2 separate regions of the Homo sapiens genome follow, and region 1 is linked to region 2. The links come from fine-mapping of genetic effects on gene expression. A gene starts in region 2. The other region holds a variant in brackets. All regions are shown on one strand. Distances are between the middles of the regions. Region 1 overlaps RARB (retinoic acid receptor beta). Region 2 holds the start of RARB (retinoic acid receptor beta).

Region 1 (8,395 bases), 59 kb before region 2:
GGGATTACAGGCATGAGGTACCACGCACGCCCAGCCCTAAATAATTTTTGAATAAGAGACAAGCATTTTCATTTTGTATAAAGTCCTGCAAATTATGTAGTCAGTCCAGGCTACAGAATACCATCTACAGCAAAAGTGTTCAATCTCTTTTTCCTTTATGAGGACGTGGCAGTCTTGGATAGTCTCGGATAGTCTCTCTTCTCTTCTGGTTGACCTTATGTTTAAAGACTGTAGATCAGACAGAATTAAGTAGTTCACTGTAATCACACTCATTCTCCCACAGGATCCCCTTGGGATGCCTCTGAGAAATTCCACGACCTGAGTAAAAGCTAGAAAGAAAAACCTTACAGGAGGGGTTTTATGTTTTACTACTGGGCTTTATTTTTGTAGTGTAAAAGGGACTTGGGGGTGGGGGTGCAGGGGGAGTGGGAGAAGCCAAAAGAACACAAAGAACTTCTTTGAAACTAGATAAAATTTCCTTCGAAACAGCACACATATCTACGCACGGTTTCAAGAGGATATCTTAAAGTTCATTATAAATCCCCTAGGTGTCTCTGACCACTACTTGGAAGCCACTGAAATAAAGGTGACTTAAAAAGAAGGTGAAGAGTATGAGGTTGAGTAGTTACCCAAAGAATTTCTGTGCAGTAGGCTAAATATCATAAATATGATATCTTGCGGACTACTTTGTCTCTTCTCAAGAGTTTGAATTAAGATGTGGTAGGAAGAAAAACTGTATGACAAGGGGAAACGAAGCCTCTAAAATGCAAGATTTCGCTCTTCTCCACATGCTTTCTTTAAATCTGGTTCTGAGAATTTGAACCAACTAAAGACATCTGTTTTCTAAATTACTTAGGTCAGTTATTTTGTGCCCTTCCTTGGTGAAATCCATAGTTACCGATCTATTATCAGGATTACTCTAAGTATAACACGGCAAGAAGCCAATGAATTTTAAGTTTTTAAATTTTCAATTATTTTATTGAAAAAAAAATGCAACAAAATAGCTGCTCAGCTACAGCCCAGGAGTTAGCGGACCCCAGCTGCTTTGTACATTAATTACTAAATCTCATCTGGACCCAAATTAAATTTTCTCATCTGTACTGAGAAGCGGGGGAGAAAAAGGTAAGCAGAAGGAGAGAGAGCCAAAACATGCTCATATATACTGAAACCCTTTACCAAAGAGCATGAATTTTAAAATCTCTTTTAGAAGTTTGGTATGCAACATTTGGCCATTAACAAAACCAGAACATGGCTCTACCATAACATGCTGGTTGACGGCAAGGCACATCACCATGGCGATGCTGCATATTGCATAATTCAAAGGCCTCTCACAGACCCAAATAATTATGATGTACTTGTATTGCTTTATAATGTTAAGGACCTAAATTAGTACAGAAAAATAAATGCTTGTCTAGAGCTTGGTGCATTTTTTCCAAGTCTATTTAATTTTCAGGGCCATGTTGGAATCTTCTCACTGGAATTTTTCTCGCTTATACATGGTTCCATCCCGAACCTGGAGTAAAAAGGAAAAACTCATAGAGTCTATGAGAATGGGAGAAGGAAAGCTAGTCAGGCATTTACATTTAAGTCAAGTCTGACAACTGAAAAATAACAGGGATTTATTGGATGTAGCCTTCTGCTTCTCTTCACCACAGACACTGCTCTGACAGTGCAAAAATCTCACTAAGTTTATTGAGAAAATATTACTTAAGCTCCAGCTCTCAAAATGGATTCTGTCCTTGTATGGAAAAGCTGTGGTGAGTCCAGGCTGACGCCTGATAATGCTAAGAGTATCGACCTCTACACACTGAGATCAGCAATGAAATGGTTTAAAGCCCACCTGCCCCTCAAAGTTGCTCATGCCTTTGTCCAGTCATACTTACCCAGGCCCCCCAAACCTAGAGTGTTTTCTCTCTGCTCAGTGCCTTTCCACAGGCCCTAGGACTTGAAAGTCCTTTCCCTGCCTTGTTCTTTGGTTCAGGACTGCTCATGCTCCAAAATACAGCCCCCAAGAGGGGTCAGGCTCCCGCCAAGCCCCCACTACCAGCATATGCTGTTGGAACATTCTCTCTACAACAGTGCAACAATTGATCTTTGTGTCTCTTTCTTCTTTGAAACCGGAGTCCTTTGCAGGCAGGGATGTAACAATCTTTTTTTGTGATGGAGTATATGCAACTTTTATAATTAAAGAATAATATCATATGGATATTCCATGTAGAAGGAAAAGGAAGAAAAGGAAGATCAGCAAAGAAATGTAAATTTAAACCAAAATACTTTATATGCAAGGAAAGGAAGAAGGAAGTTATATTTTCATTGGTAAAACTCTAATATCATAAATTCAGGCAGCAATGTTAACTTACTGATTTATTCCAAATTAGCAAAAAATAGGCTCAAATTTCACCCACAGGCTCCTCTTTCTTGATCCTTAAAATTAAAGTAGCTATATTATGTCAGCACAGTGCCAAGATTTGAAATTAAATAGGTCCCCAATGCAAAAGAAAAAGTTCTTTTAAACAACATGAACTTGTCTGCAATTAGCACATTATAGCTTCCACCTAAGCACCATGCTATATGAAAATACACTCCTGGAGCTGCTGCTGTTTCAAAGACCTTAAGCTGTGCACTTTCTGAAGTTGTTTTGTAGGAGAACATTTAACAGAACACACACAATTAATTTTTTAAGTGTTACCTCTCTGCTTTTCCATTTCATACCTGACTTTAGTTGATAAAAAGAGGAGCAGCCTTTTGATTACACTGGAGAGAAGGGGAAAAACAGTCTCCGTAATAAAAGAGGTACCTGCCAATTAGTTAGATTGTTCTCCAGTTTTCAATTAAAGGCAGCCTAATGGATGTAGGGGGACCTGTTTTATTTTCCCTGACAGAGCCCTTATTTTTAAACTCTTAGCTTCATTTTCCAAAATTGCTGGCTTTAGACAGAAGAAACATATATCTTGAGTGAAAAGCTGTACTGTTCTTCTTCTATTTCCTGTATCAAAATTACATTTTTCTCCTCAGTGGCTACTTCCCATCTGGCCCACAAAGCTTTCTGCTGCCCAGGATGGGCTTGTTAACGGATGGTGGTCCCTGATGCTATAACCCACTCCAAAAGATGGGGTGTCAGACCCTGCCCCCAGGCCAGGAAGCCTCATCTAGGAGCTTTGGGGGTGTTTCAGCCTAATTTTGCTTTCCTCAGGTGATCATTCCATGGAACGTCATTTACCCTTCTCATTTTCTCCAGAAGGACAAAAGAGATAACTTAGGAGGGAGTGTTTATTTTGAACTCATCCAAAAGCACTTCAGTCTCTCCTAAGCATCAGCCTGTGGATGAAATTTGGGAATTATTTTCCTTAGATGAAACAGGACTGAACATTTCCTTGGACATGGCTGGCCTTCTTCCTCGGAACACACACATATTCAAGATTGATATTTTTATTCAGAGTTTTCTCAAATGAATAATTAGGAGATGTTCACAGGCAGGTGTAGGAAAAAGAGCCGGGCCCCCGTAAATCATGATTAAACTACATTTAACCACCAAAGATCTGAACCACCTCTTGTTAACAGCTTAGCAGTTTTGTTTCTGTGGGATAGCACAGTCCCTAGACTTTGGGGAATTGTGGGGCCAATTCCCCATACTGTCAACAGTAGTTATAGCAGCTGAATAAATCCCTCCAGATTGGACCAACCACTCCCTCCAGGCTGGAAAATAAGCCATGAATCACATTATCCTGGTAACTTGAGATTTAACATATCTATAGAGGGAAGATATAAAGCTTCATGTATTAATTCCTATTTGTTTTCAACATCACCTGAAGTTTAGTTGGTTCAAACCAAAGATGGCTACAAGAGGCACATTAGAACAGAGCATGACGCCTTAGTGAGCATTAGAATAGACCCCGTGAAA[G/A]CACCAGGCAGTGACACAAAAGTAATGCTTTCATCCTGCCAAGAAAACAGAAAGGTGTTTTAGGAGCCCCTCAGAAGGAGATTCTGAATTAATGTGTAATTTCAGGTTTCCAAATGGCTTTTATGAGCTTGCTTACCCAAAGTATTTCAGAACATCATCTCTTTTAATTTTTAATTTTTATCCGCTCAAAGCTCCAAAAATATACTGATCTGAATCATTGCCTCTCATCTTGTTATCTTAATGGGGGAAGGATAGAGTATCATGCCGACCATTCCGCATTAGGTGTCCTCATTTACAGATTGAAAAAAAAAAAAAAAGTGCCGGACATAAATTATTTAAAATCTATTGTATCAGTGTGTGTTCTGTAAGCATTCACTACCGGCAAAGCAGACAGATTATTTTTCACTTTTAATTGTGTTGATACCTTATCTGCTTTGTTGAAAGCAGAGAGTGGTAGGTGAAACCACATCGCACGCTGAGGAACAGAGAAGCAATGGGGTCTATTATTTAAAGCCAAAGTAACCCATTTAGTGGACATAACTTTAACACACTTCCATGGAAGCGAAAACCTGGAGTTGCTATTTACGTCTGTAATGTGTGTCTATTACTGTGTCAAACGCGACTGAGGGTAGCACAGGGCCAGGCTTCTTAAGGAAGCTGTTAGCTGACTGCATCAGGGACACCAGACACCTCACATCACCATCCCAGCACAAAAGGAGAGAAAGTGTGTGACTGAGCAGGGGAACTAGTCCAGCATCCCTCCTCTCTCTCCTCTCCAAGTCTCAGGTGTGTTGTAAAGCAATGTAAATCAGAGGTCATCATAGGTATACTTGACCTAATCCAAACCTTGTCCTAATCTAAGAAAAATATTTAGAGTAAGAAGAATATACTTAGATAATAAAATTAATAATCTGTGACTGGAACCTGATTGAAATAAAATTATACAGAGGGATACAAGGATTCATTATTAGAAATTCAAAATTAGCCCTTCTCCCATTGTCCGTGAAGACCATCATCAGGAAATGCATATATGTGCTGGATATATCAGAATGTAGCCAAAAAAGTACCTCACCATTATCCGAATTTAAAAGACCCTTCCAAACTCAGCAACTTAGCAATTCATTTGGGTGAAGTGGCAGATGATGGTAGGGTATATACAGATAATGACTATAGAATTGTTCTGATGTAGTTTATTAAGTTGAAGACCTGTCATAACTCTAGCTTTTTGTATCCTCAGCACCAAATCCAGCACCTTGCCTGGCATTCAGTAAGTATTTGCTCACATGGATGGGTGGAAGGTTGCATGGGAGAGTGACTTCGTTGGCCAAATATCCTCTGCCAGGGCTGTAGGGTGGCTTAAGTGACTTCTACCTCTACCCAAGTAGAAGTCCAAAGGGCTCTAAGCTAGTCTACTTTCTTCCTTTAACTGGCTTTGTACTCTAAGCAAACAGTTGAACCATTTCTGTAGTTCCATTTCACAAGTCTGAAATGATCTCTACATGCCTTCTAGCACTGATATTTGAGATTTCCACGTGTCTTATTAAAGGAACACACACTCAGCATGTCTCCAACATAAGCCTTAGCTCTATACCTTTTGTGACACATGGCTGGTTTGGTAAGATCCAACGAGCTAAAGAAAGCCCAGTCTCCCAAATATGGGCCCTTTTTGCATTGACTCAAAATCCAGCAAAAAGACAACTCCCAGCAAAATACTCAAGTCAATAACCAGACACAAAATGGAACTGCATCATATCTGATATTTGTGAGTTTCATTTCCACACTGTCAAATATAATTCGTGGCAACCCACTTCAGTGAAAGCCCAATGTAAGCCACTGCACTGTTCTTACCCTCCAAACTCCACAACCCCAACCAGTGTGAGCTTCAAATTGAACTCCTGACCTTTCCAGCAATTATCCCCAGAATCTAGACAGCCCCATCATCACCTCAAGCCAACGTGTGAGAGGAGCAGCAGCCAGGAATGCTCTGCCTCTGTTCCCGAAGGGAACCAGAGTGAGAGAGGATCCTGCTTTCCTTTCCATCTGCTTTCTCCAATAAAAGGGAAAAAATAAATGGAAATGAAAAGTATACAATTAAAAAAAATTACATTTAACTTCCTTTTGCTAATGTCTGTAAGATGATTTTTGGCCTGGCAGGAGACTCCAGATGGGCCGTGTAATGAATATAATTTAATACAAAGAACCGGAGTTCACAGAAACACATTTTTCCAAGTCTGAAGGTAGTGGGTTGTCTCACACTGTTTAATGCAAAACACCAGGACAAGTTATTGCATTTATTTGCTGTTGCACATTGGCCTTTAAACCTAATATGAGTGGGGCTAGACCTGAAGCCATGAAACCAGAAGCTGTCACTCTCTGAGATGAGGCTGGCACCAGTGCACACTCACCCAAAAGGCCAGAGACCACTAACCACTCAATGTGTTTTTCCTCTGGGGTCTGAGGATTTATATCACCAATTAAGGCCATAATGAGTGCCCCAAGTTGACCTCCTAGGAGCAAGAATTAATTAAGCACAGTATTTCTTAGTAAAGAATGACATTTTTCCAAACGAGTTATATAAGGTGGCCACATTTTCTGATATTACTGTGCTTCTATGTACAATTCCTAATTGTTAACACAAATAGAATATTCCAGGAACACAGCTTAGTTTATGTTTTTAATTTGACAGTAAAAGAAAATAATTTTTACTTTTATCCTTATTTTGGAGGCAAAGAGAGTGTTTTGAGTGTATCGTGTGTGTGTGAAACACAAAATTATTTACATTAGTAATATAATATCACTTCTTTCAATTATTAATATGACTATAAATGAAGGAAGCTAAGACTCATATTTATAACCTTCCCAGCTTTCAAAAATGAAAAGTCATGTTTTAAACCCAGTTGTACTCCAGCATTCGTGTGTTTCCATAAATATGACAATGGAGGTTAAAAAAAAAATAGGTTAAAGCTTCCATTTTGTAAACTACACCTTAAATATCCTCATCCAGGGGTTGGCAGATTTCTATAAAGGGCCAAATAGAAACTCTTTAAGCTGTGGGCCAGAGACTTAGCTGCAAATACTCAACTCTACCATCACAGAATGAAAGCAATCATAGACAATACAGAAATGAATGGATTGGCTGTGTACCAAGAAAACTTTATAAACACTGAAATTGAATTTCATATAATTTTCATATGTTATATTAATTTTTTTTTCAAGCATTTAAAATGTAAAAAAAAATTCTTAGCTCTTGGCCATACAAAAACAGGCAGCAGACCCGGTTTAGCCTATGGGCCATAATTTGACAACCCCTGGCTAAAACATATGTATATTTTGTAGTAATCAGCGAGGTTGGAGAAAACACGGTCTCTTTCTCACTCTCTCACACATGCACACACGTACACATACACCCTAATTATCAACATCACGGTCTCAGAAACTATTGATGTACTACAGAAAAAATGTGGCTTCAAGCATGTCTCTTTTGCTATGAACCAGGACATGAAGAAAACCTCAGCCTTGAAGAAATGTTACAAGGGTGGTAGGAAAAAGACACCTCTTTCCTCCTCGCCCTTTCTCATAAAGAAAATTCCCACTCTAAATTAGAAATCATGTCTTTCCCTCCTTTAAGGAGTTAACATAGCCAGCACAGATCTGGAAATCCCTACAGCCTACTTGCCAATTAATGTATTTAACTCTAAAGAGCAGGAGTTTTTAATTTAGCTCATCCTTCACTAACGGAACATTTTGGTAGAAAATATTAGGATTTCCAAATAACTTTATAGCTCTGTAAATTGCCAACATACCATCTGCAATTGAATTAACATTTATAACCAAACTGAAATAATAAATAAAGCAAATTACGCTGCAAATATTTGTGAGTGCCCAATATGCACTTGAGAACGATAATTAGCATTTTATAATCACGCTTCATTTTCTTTATCCGACTCCCTGTCACATTAATGATAAAATATTTTAAACTGTGCTCTATCAGCAAATGGCAGTACAATCTCTAGATTAGCCATTAACTAACATGGAGAATGAACACAGTTTGTGCTGCTGACATTATGCACCCAGAAGTTTTACTCATAATCACATCCTCCAGTCTCCCTTGCTCTTATCTCTGGGTTTTGTTTTGTTTTCCTATGCTACCAAAACAAGGCTGAGAAAGCCAGTGCTTCATTTGCACCATCTGAACCAGAAGCTCTATGGGAACTAAAGCCACACACTCTCTTTTTTTGAGTGAAAAAAAAAAAAAAAAAAAAGAAGAAATATGATTTTAAAATTTATGACTTTCTGATCTAGAAAACCAGGGTCTAGAGGTCAAGAAGCTTAAGTCACTCAAATGGAATCACTCTTGTCCTCAAATAATTCCAAAGTTCTCTCTCATTATCATCTGACATCCTCTACCACAGTATGTGTGATTCTTTTTCTAGGTTCAAATAAATGTTAATTCAACTAAATAAACTAGTGAAGACTATATATGTACACATATTT
Region 2 (8,395 bases):
TTCTGGCAATAAAATTTAAACACATGCTTTTTCTTTTCTAAGTTGCACATCAATACTCACTCCCTTGTCAAATGTACCAATTTATCCAATATTCACAATATGATTTCTTTTTTTCTACAAGGAAGGAAAACTTTGTGAATCTTTCACTTGTTTTCGAACAACCCACAACCCTGCCTGTACTCTCTTTGCGATTTAAGGAAAAGTCCCTCTTTTTCTCTTCTTTCTGATGGTATTAGTTACCACCGTCATGTGCCCGAGAAGCAGAAAATTATGTCCTACTTTAGAAAAACAATTGGGCCTTTTCACTGAAATATTTATTCAAAACCCCATTCAATTCATACGGTGGCTGTCAGTCTTTATTTAGTCTTTCTTTCAGAGGGTATCTTTGATTTTGCCACTTTGACCCCAATTTATATCTCACTAGGAGAGGATTTAGATACTGTTTAATACTTAAAATTTGGGTCCCAGGGCTTTGAAAAGAGGCCTTTTCTCATTCCCTAATCAAACATCACTACTGGTTGTTTTAAAAATAATTTCTTCTCATTAATGGGCAAAGTCCTATTTCAAAAAGAAAATATTTTTTTCTTTTTCCTTTTGATGTGTTGAGTAGGGAGAAAAGACAGGGAAAAAGGCCAAGAAGTTGTCACACTCGTTATTTCACCAAAGCAACTATATTTAGACCACAAAATATTAAGATTTATCCTATACCCACTGAGCAATTAATGTTGAAAACATCTGGAGCCGCCTAAAACCAAGATAATCCTGGAGACATCTGAACAGAAATTTAGTGACTCCTATACCTTCCAGGGGCAGTCGTCAATCGTAATATTTAGACCACATTCCCTTAGTAGTCCCCTAATCCTGACTTTGAATGCTTATAAGAAGCAATTCACAGACACTACTACAAATGGCAGCTGGCTGGCATATCATTTTTCTGCCTTTAAAATTAAAAAGAAAATAAAGGGAATATTTTAACACCTTTCAAAGTGAGCTTGTGATGGTGTGCTCCATGTTCAAAGGTCTTACTTTATTTACTATGCATACACACACACACCATAAAAAAAACTCAAAGCAGAAAATAGTTTTGGTTGGAATTTAGTACTTTTTCTTCTTTGCCCACTGTTTCCTCTGTGTTAAAAGCAAAAACAGATCTGCTTCTCGTCAAAATAGCCATTAAGTAAAATGGAAAAGGTTGTGGTTATGTTCTTACTTACACAAATGTAGCCCTAATATACTTTTATTTCAATAGCCCTAACTAGCTGTACCACCCTGAACCAAACACTGCATGGCACAAGACATTTGTTAGAATCTCTAAAAAAAAAAAAAAAAAAAAGTTTTAGTTTTATTTATGCTAAAAAAAAAAAAAAATCGTTGGAACAACTGACCATCATAAAGTGGTTTATGAGGGTAAAGCAACTCTGCAAGGGCACAAGCAATATTTACATTTTATTCATTTAACCTAAAGTTGGGGTGTGGGATTCAAACTCTTGTGAAACTGACCACAATAAGAACTAATTGCCCTGCTTACAAAAATAAGACACTGGAATTTCTGAAATCCCTTTGTCAAATGCCTTTATTTACTTTGTCTAATGCAAGTTTCTTTGATTAGCTAAACTTTGCTGTTATCAACACTTCTTGCTTATCGGGTAGTTTTAGGCGAATGACACATTCACCGCTCGCTCTCCCTAGATAAAGCAAATCCCTTGTTTAACTTGTCCAAGAACAAACAAAGCTTTTCCCCCTACTCTTACAACTTAATAGGCATCTTTGGAAGGTTAATTACAAAAGGAAGAATGTCTACATGTAAAAACTCTATTAGGTCTAATAACTTTTGGCGAGGATCCTGAGCATATTTTTTCCTTCTGTTAAAAAACATGTTTCATTACCACTTTCTCTAACAAGAAAAAGTTTCAGAGAGCCCCAGTTCCCTGGGATTCCAACAGAAATTGTTCATACTGTTTTAATTGCTACAAAGAGGACAGGTCTGAAAAGTCTCTTCTTGGATTAGAAAATTATTTTGTAACACTCCAGTTTCTTTGAGTTCTCCAGAAATAAAATGGGCACCAAAAAAGAAAAGGCATTTGGGGAGCAGCTGAAGATTAAGGCGCCTTCTGAAAACGATATTCTTTTTGCCCTGCTTATGGCTCTACAAAATGTTAAGTCAGACAGCCAGGCTGTTGGCATCAAATGGTTATTGATTTTTCAGCTACAAACCTGTTGATTTCCCGGCCCAAGAAGCAAGTCTTTATTCTTAAGAAAAAGTTTCAGAGAGGGCAATTTAAATCCTGTCATTGTCCCCTCTCCCCTTTTTCTTCTCTCTTTAGATAAGCCACCATGTTATTAGGAAAACTCAATTTCTTCCAGTTAAACTTTGACCTCTTTGAAAACAAAGATTTAAAATGTCATTTTCAGGCTAATGCTCCAATGAATTGTCAAATAAAGTACTAAAAACATTTTGATAGATAGCTGAGCCATTTATCTAAATCACTGTCAGGGCGGCGAAGCATCCTGCAGGCTCCCACTACAGCCACCCGAAGGTGGGATTTTCTGGGACTCCTGATCATTTCTCAAGCCTGCAGCCAGGCTACTGTTGACCAGGTGCGTACCTCGGCACTGTGTCAGCATCAGATAACAAAATAGTCAATATTTTTTTTTTAAATTGGGCTACCCCACTTATATTTCCTTTCCTTTAACTGATGTCCACGTTCCGGGCTGAACTGCAAGATATGGAAATAATGGATGGCTCAGTCCAAGGGGTGTTCATTGCCAGTAGTTTTCTAGCAAAACAGCAACTTCTTAGACCAACAAAGTGACTTGGAAAGGTGGCAGCAGGGTCAATGCTAAGAAATATTGCCTTTCCTTAGCAAGGAAAACATTGGAAGCGGCAGCTTGAACTGGTGGTTTATGAACTTCGGGAGCAGCAGCCACCTTAATTAAACTAAATTCCTTTCAAGGAAAATGTCATATTTTAATTACTTTGGACTGTTGGAATACACAAGGGGTGGGGGGACCTATACAACTAGTAGCTAATCCAAAGAACAGCAAAGTTAAATTCCACTCTGCATACATTTTAGTAAAAACTGCAAAATGTGTCAAATTGCCCTACTTGAAGAATGTTTTAAAGTCTTGTGGTCACCCTCTACTCCCCACCCCCCACATTTTTATGCATATTTTAAAAACTGTTTTCAAGAGACTATAAGGTTGGTAAGGAGAGGAGCATGGGGGCGGGAGGGGTTATTTGGGAAGAAAACATCTAACAGGAAATTTTCAGCAAAGGGAATCAATATGCATGCCAGCATATCACACCCCTTCAGCATTAAATCATTAAATCCTTTGTCTTGCTACCAATGCAGTTTATTTCCAACGTCTTTATTGCATGCAAGAGAGACAATTTTTTTTTTCTTGGTAGAAGAAGGGAAAAAAATAAACCTACATTGAGCAGTGTGCCGATGCTGCCATTCGGTTTGGGTCAATCCACTGAAGCATGCTTTGAGAGCTTTCTCCTGGAGCATGCAGGAAGACGGACTCGCAGTGTAGAAATCCAGGATTTGCCCAGGACTCACTGACAGAACATCCATACAGTCAAACATGATCTCCCTTGCACTGAATGTCTGCAAAAGTGCTTATCCTCTAGGTGTGGAGGCAAATGGCATAGAAAAGTCCACCCAACTCCATCAAACTCTGCCCCTTTTTTGGCACGTAGGCTGTTGGTCTTTTTCCCAGCCCCGAATCATGAATTATGACAGACAAGCCAGCTAAAAGCCTGTAATTGATCCAAATGATCATTTACCATTTTCCAGGCTTGCTCGGCCAATCCAGCCGGGGCGGGGGGTTCCCAGAAAGATCCCAAGTTCTCCTTCCAAGTAAATGCTTGCAAAAAGCCTTCCGAATGCGTTCCGGATCCTACCCCGACGGTGCCCAGACAAACCCTGCTCGGATCGCTCGCGTTCTCGGCATCCCAGTCCTCAAACAGCTCGCATGGGGGAATTCTGGTCCCCCCTTTGGCAAAGAATAGACCCTCCTGCCTCTGAACAGCTCACTTCCTACTACTTCTGTCACACAGAATGAAAGATTGAATTGCCTAATATATGCGAGTGAACTTTCGGTGAACCCTACCCGGGCTGCTAACCTTCAAATGACCCAACTAGTCTGACATCACCAACTCCCAGGATTCTCACAGAGCTTAAAAACTCCCAGCAGCCCTGCAAAAGCAGACAGCCAGAGAGGCAGGCAGCGAGCGCACAAGCCGGCGTTTTCTTTCCTATTTCTCACCTTAAAAACAATACAAGAAGTGCTTTTAAAATGAGCAGGGGAGGAGCCGGGACGCTGCTCCTGGCTCACGTTGAGCACCAACTTCTCTCCCTTTACGCCTTTTTATTTGCGGCGGCTTAGCTTGGAAAACGGTGTTCCGCCTGCGCCCGCTCGCCTCCCGCCCACCGCCTCGCCCCCCAGCCCACACTTTAAATTCCTCTGTGCGCCTTTCTGTCTGTTAAATTCCTTATAACTTATGTATTTTTCCACTCCAGAAAAAGCACATGCAAGCCCTAAACTGTAGAACAGAGAATGGCTACCCCTTGGGAAAGGCTTGGGTTGGGAAACTTTCCATTCCACAGTCTTTTTCTCTTTCTCCCTCTTGCAAGCCCCTGGCTGAATTGACTGCACTCGTTTGCTCTGCAATCCAGCTTTCGAGATTCATTTACTTTGAAAAATCCTCTCCAGGTTCTATGCAGCATATAGAGTAGTCAGGAATTGGTTACCCCTGTCCCAAACACACAGCCACACAGAAAATGAGATTTCAGATCTGGACTTGAAAAAACAGTATAGTGGTCAAGAGCATGGGTTGGGGAATCAAACTGAACTAGATTCCAATTCCAGGTCTGCCACTTACCAGCTGTGTGTTCTGGGATAAGTATTTAACTTCTTCAGGCTTCAGTTTCCTCATCTGTAAAATGGGCATATAATACTACCCACGTCAGTGTTAACTGGGAGGACAGAAATAACACTTGTATGGTGCTGGGTAAATATCATGGAACAAATGTTAGCTGTGACTCATCCTCATACTGTTCAACTGGTGAAACAAAACCCCGGGGAGATGAGACCTACCCAAGGTCACACAGCTCAGAGCTGTGACTAGAACCCAGCTCCCTAGGATGAAAGTCCAATGTGAAAATTACTTGCCTGTTCCCACATCCTTGCACCCCAAATAGCCATGTTGGTTGCCTCTCTCATCATACACCTACACACATCCCACCACATAATTAAACGCATATTTTGTAAACTGGTTTAAGTATGACAGTTTTACATTTTGAAGGACCAGTTTTCTCTCATTCCAGCCCCTGCCCAATCCTTTTATTAAAATACAGTAATTTTAAGGGAAAATGATTTTTTAGATCTCTCACACTGACCCAACCTACAGGAAGAAGAGTCTTTCCAGCCAGTCCTAAAACACTAAGAAGGATAGATGCAGTATTTACAAATAAACCCAGCCGGATGGAGAGCTTTAAAAGGGAGAGCCAATCTACCCTGCAGCCATTTTGCACAACTTGTTTAAAGGATGCAACATACATCAAATAAAGGAAACTCTGGAGAGGAATTAAAACACCCTTTTTTCTCCACTGCCTCTGTAGCATTTACTTGTAATTCTCCCACAAAACAGGGCAGGCAAGTGGTTAGGCAGGGAGGGAGAGTCTCCTTGCCCAATGCAGGGAAGAGCACTGCTCCAGTCTCCTTTTTGTGGATAGTGTTGGAATGTGCATTGGCATCCGGGCCTTTTAAAAGCCTGTCAGGGGGCACCCCACCCCATGCTGAAACACTGCCCTGTCTAGTGGAGTTGCTAAGTGGCACTTGTGGTGTAACATGAAAAGTATGCATCGCACACACTTACCAAGTCAAAGATCCTTTTATGAAGGTACATTAAAACAATTTTCAGCCCAGCAAGCTCAGTTCTTGCTATTGAAAAGTTCAGGGCAATAAAGGGGTGAGATTTTTGCTGAATCTGTGTTTGTTATTTTTGCGCCTCTCTTCTCTCTTTTATATGGCCATCATTTTGTAACAGAGACTTATTGTAAGAAACCCTTTAACTACAAAGAAAACACACATTTTAAGCAAGAGAACACAGAGGAATTTACAAAACATTTAACACACTGTCATTAAGGTAGTTGTAAAGATACACAAAGCACTACATTATGTGCCAATTTCTACTTGGTCCATGAGGCTTATGGCTCCAAATGCTTATTTAAGGTCCTTAGAGTTCCTTGGAAACTGAGTTCATTTTTACCGGACAGTGGAGGTGGATGAAAAGTTGTTAGACAAGAGAAGAGGAAACAGCTATATTGGAAGTAGAGCAGGAGAAACTTAAGTTAGAGATGAGAAACATGGCATCACTGACAGGTATGTGTGTACAGGGATCTGTTATCCAGGGGAGGCTGCTGCACATTCTTGCTTAACATCTCTCCAAAGAGTAGAGATGCACTGGTCCCAGGGAAGTGAAGATGGGGATGGGTGTCCTCAAAATTCTGTTCATTCTCATTTCTTAAGCTATGGAATCAGCCTCATTGAGCGAGACCACTGCTTCCGAATTTCTTACCTCTATACTGTATCATTGCACAAAAATAACAACATTAGTGTGTCTCTCTCTGTGTGTGGTAAAGGTTGGGCGACTCGATGTTTTCTTTCTTTGTGCAAGAAAATGTAAAATATATAATTACCTTGAAGTTCTCAACTGAGAAATGAACTTGGGCCTTGAAATGAATAATCAGTATTTAAATCCCCATGAAAGGAATAGTATGGGTTTCTTATAATATGACAATATTCGCTAGTCAATTAATCATTCCTCATCATGAATTAATTATGCTGATAGCAATAATTAGAGCTATTACTTAATCCAAGTATTAATTTATAAAACAGACCCATGATTTAGCCACATGCTAATTATTTCTTCATCAGTAAATGCTTACACTTCTTGAAAACTTGATTCTGTCTCCAAATTCTTCATTTTAAGTAAAATGAAGGAAAGATACATAAATAAGCCATAATTCTTTAAATACAGATCCGTGCACTATAAAGATTAATGAGTAGGGTAGAAAGTGAAAAATAGACCGATTTGTCCGTAATGAAATGTAAACTACTGACACCCATTTTAAACATTAGCCACAGGGTTGGAAGAAACTTTCCCAAATATCTTCTTGTTATGGCATAAAATAACATTCTGATATGTGTCATCTCTATTTTCTTTGTGTTTGATCAATGATCTAATAAATGTATTTCCAACCAACAAGCAAACAAAAAGTGAAAAACAAAAAGCAAAACTTTGAGAGTAAAATCCATTTTGTTTCAGAGTAACTGTATATTTGTCAGTGTGACACAGCACATTTGAAACCCATAATCATAAAACAAAAATTTATAGCCAGGGTTCAGGGTCTACATCTGTTTCTCTGGTTTTCGTACAGCAATTACCCACTGGACAATCCAGAAAGAAACACCATGAATCATGCTCTGCAAACATGTTTGAACTGGAGAGTTTTCTGAAGAAAGAGCAGTCGTGTCTGTGCACCGTACTGCAGCCGGCTGTGTTCAAAATTGGGCTAATACCTTGTGATGTCTAAATAAGAAGATTTTCAGAGGCGCAGACATATCCCCCCCCACCACAGGGGCAGACATGCAAAGTGCAGGCAGACACAGGCACAGGGCTGGGGGAGGTGGACACTGATTGTTTTAAAGACATGCCCAGCTCTTTCATGTTGTTTTGGCTTTTTGTTTGTTTTTTAATTTTTTTTCCCTGTTAATCCCCTCTTGCCACAGTTCTGCCAGAAGAATAAATGGCTAGTACTGAGTGACTTGTGTGTTCCAGCAGGGAAGCCAAGGCAGAGATGTTGGCAGCACGAGGCAAGTATGAGGCTCTTCCCAGGGCTTCCATACTAGCAGGCAGAGCTGCTTTTGTGTTGGAAGGGAGCGGGGGAAGTTCTAACAGTAATAACACATGGAAACTTTGCTTGTGGCCCTTCAGTATGAACACCTGCTCACATAACAGGACTGTTGATGTTCGTGGATCTTATACCAAAAGACACCAATGCACTTTCCAAATGAACTTGCAAGGTGGCTCTGGGCATGAGTATAGCGACTTCTTAGAAACCCTAGAAACACATCTTCTTCAAAAATGTCTTTTTACTTTGAGTGTTGGCCACCGTGTCCTTCATTTGGCTCTTTTCTCTTCAGCTCTCTGCTTTTTCAGACTTTCCTCCACAAAGTCTTCCTACTTGGTTACACACAAATATTGTTCTCCCAAGACAAGGGCATACTTTTCTCTTTCCACATTTCTGAATTATTTTCTTTAGTGCTTCTGTGCTTTCTGCCGTCGATGACTCATAAAGACAGCTCTTCAAGCCCAACAGTTTCG

Evidence for each region. PIP is the estimated chance that this variant, and not a neighbour inherited with it, causes the effect.
Region 1: its variant is the best candidate, but not a certain one, in a credible set for the expression of RARB in lung (TOPMed, PIP 0.83).

The regions. Positions count from the first base shown.
Region 1 is chr3:25,483,296-25,491,690 of GRCh38, reverse strand. The region is part of intron 2 of RARB (retinoic acid receptor beta); the gene reads right to left. Among named protein-coding and RNA genes, the nearest start is that of RARB, 59 kb to the right of the region's middle. The variant G/A (reference allele first, on the strand shown) is at 3,902.
Region 2 is chr3:25,423,927-25,432,321 of GRCh38, reverse strand. RARB (retinoic acid receptor beta) reads right to left here and starts at 4,059. Exons shown (of 8, transcript NM_000965.5): 1 at 3,434-4,059. The coding sequence starts at 3,590. RefSeq lists an enhancer at 4,161-4,998.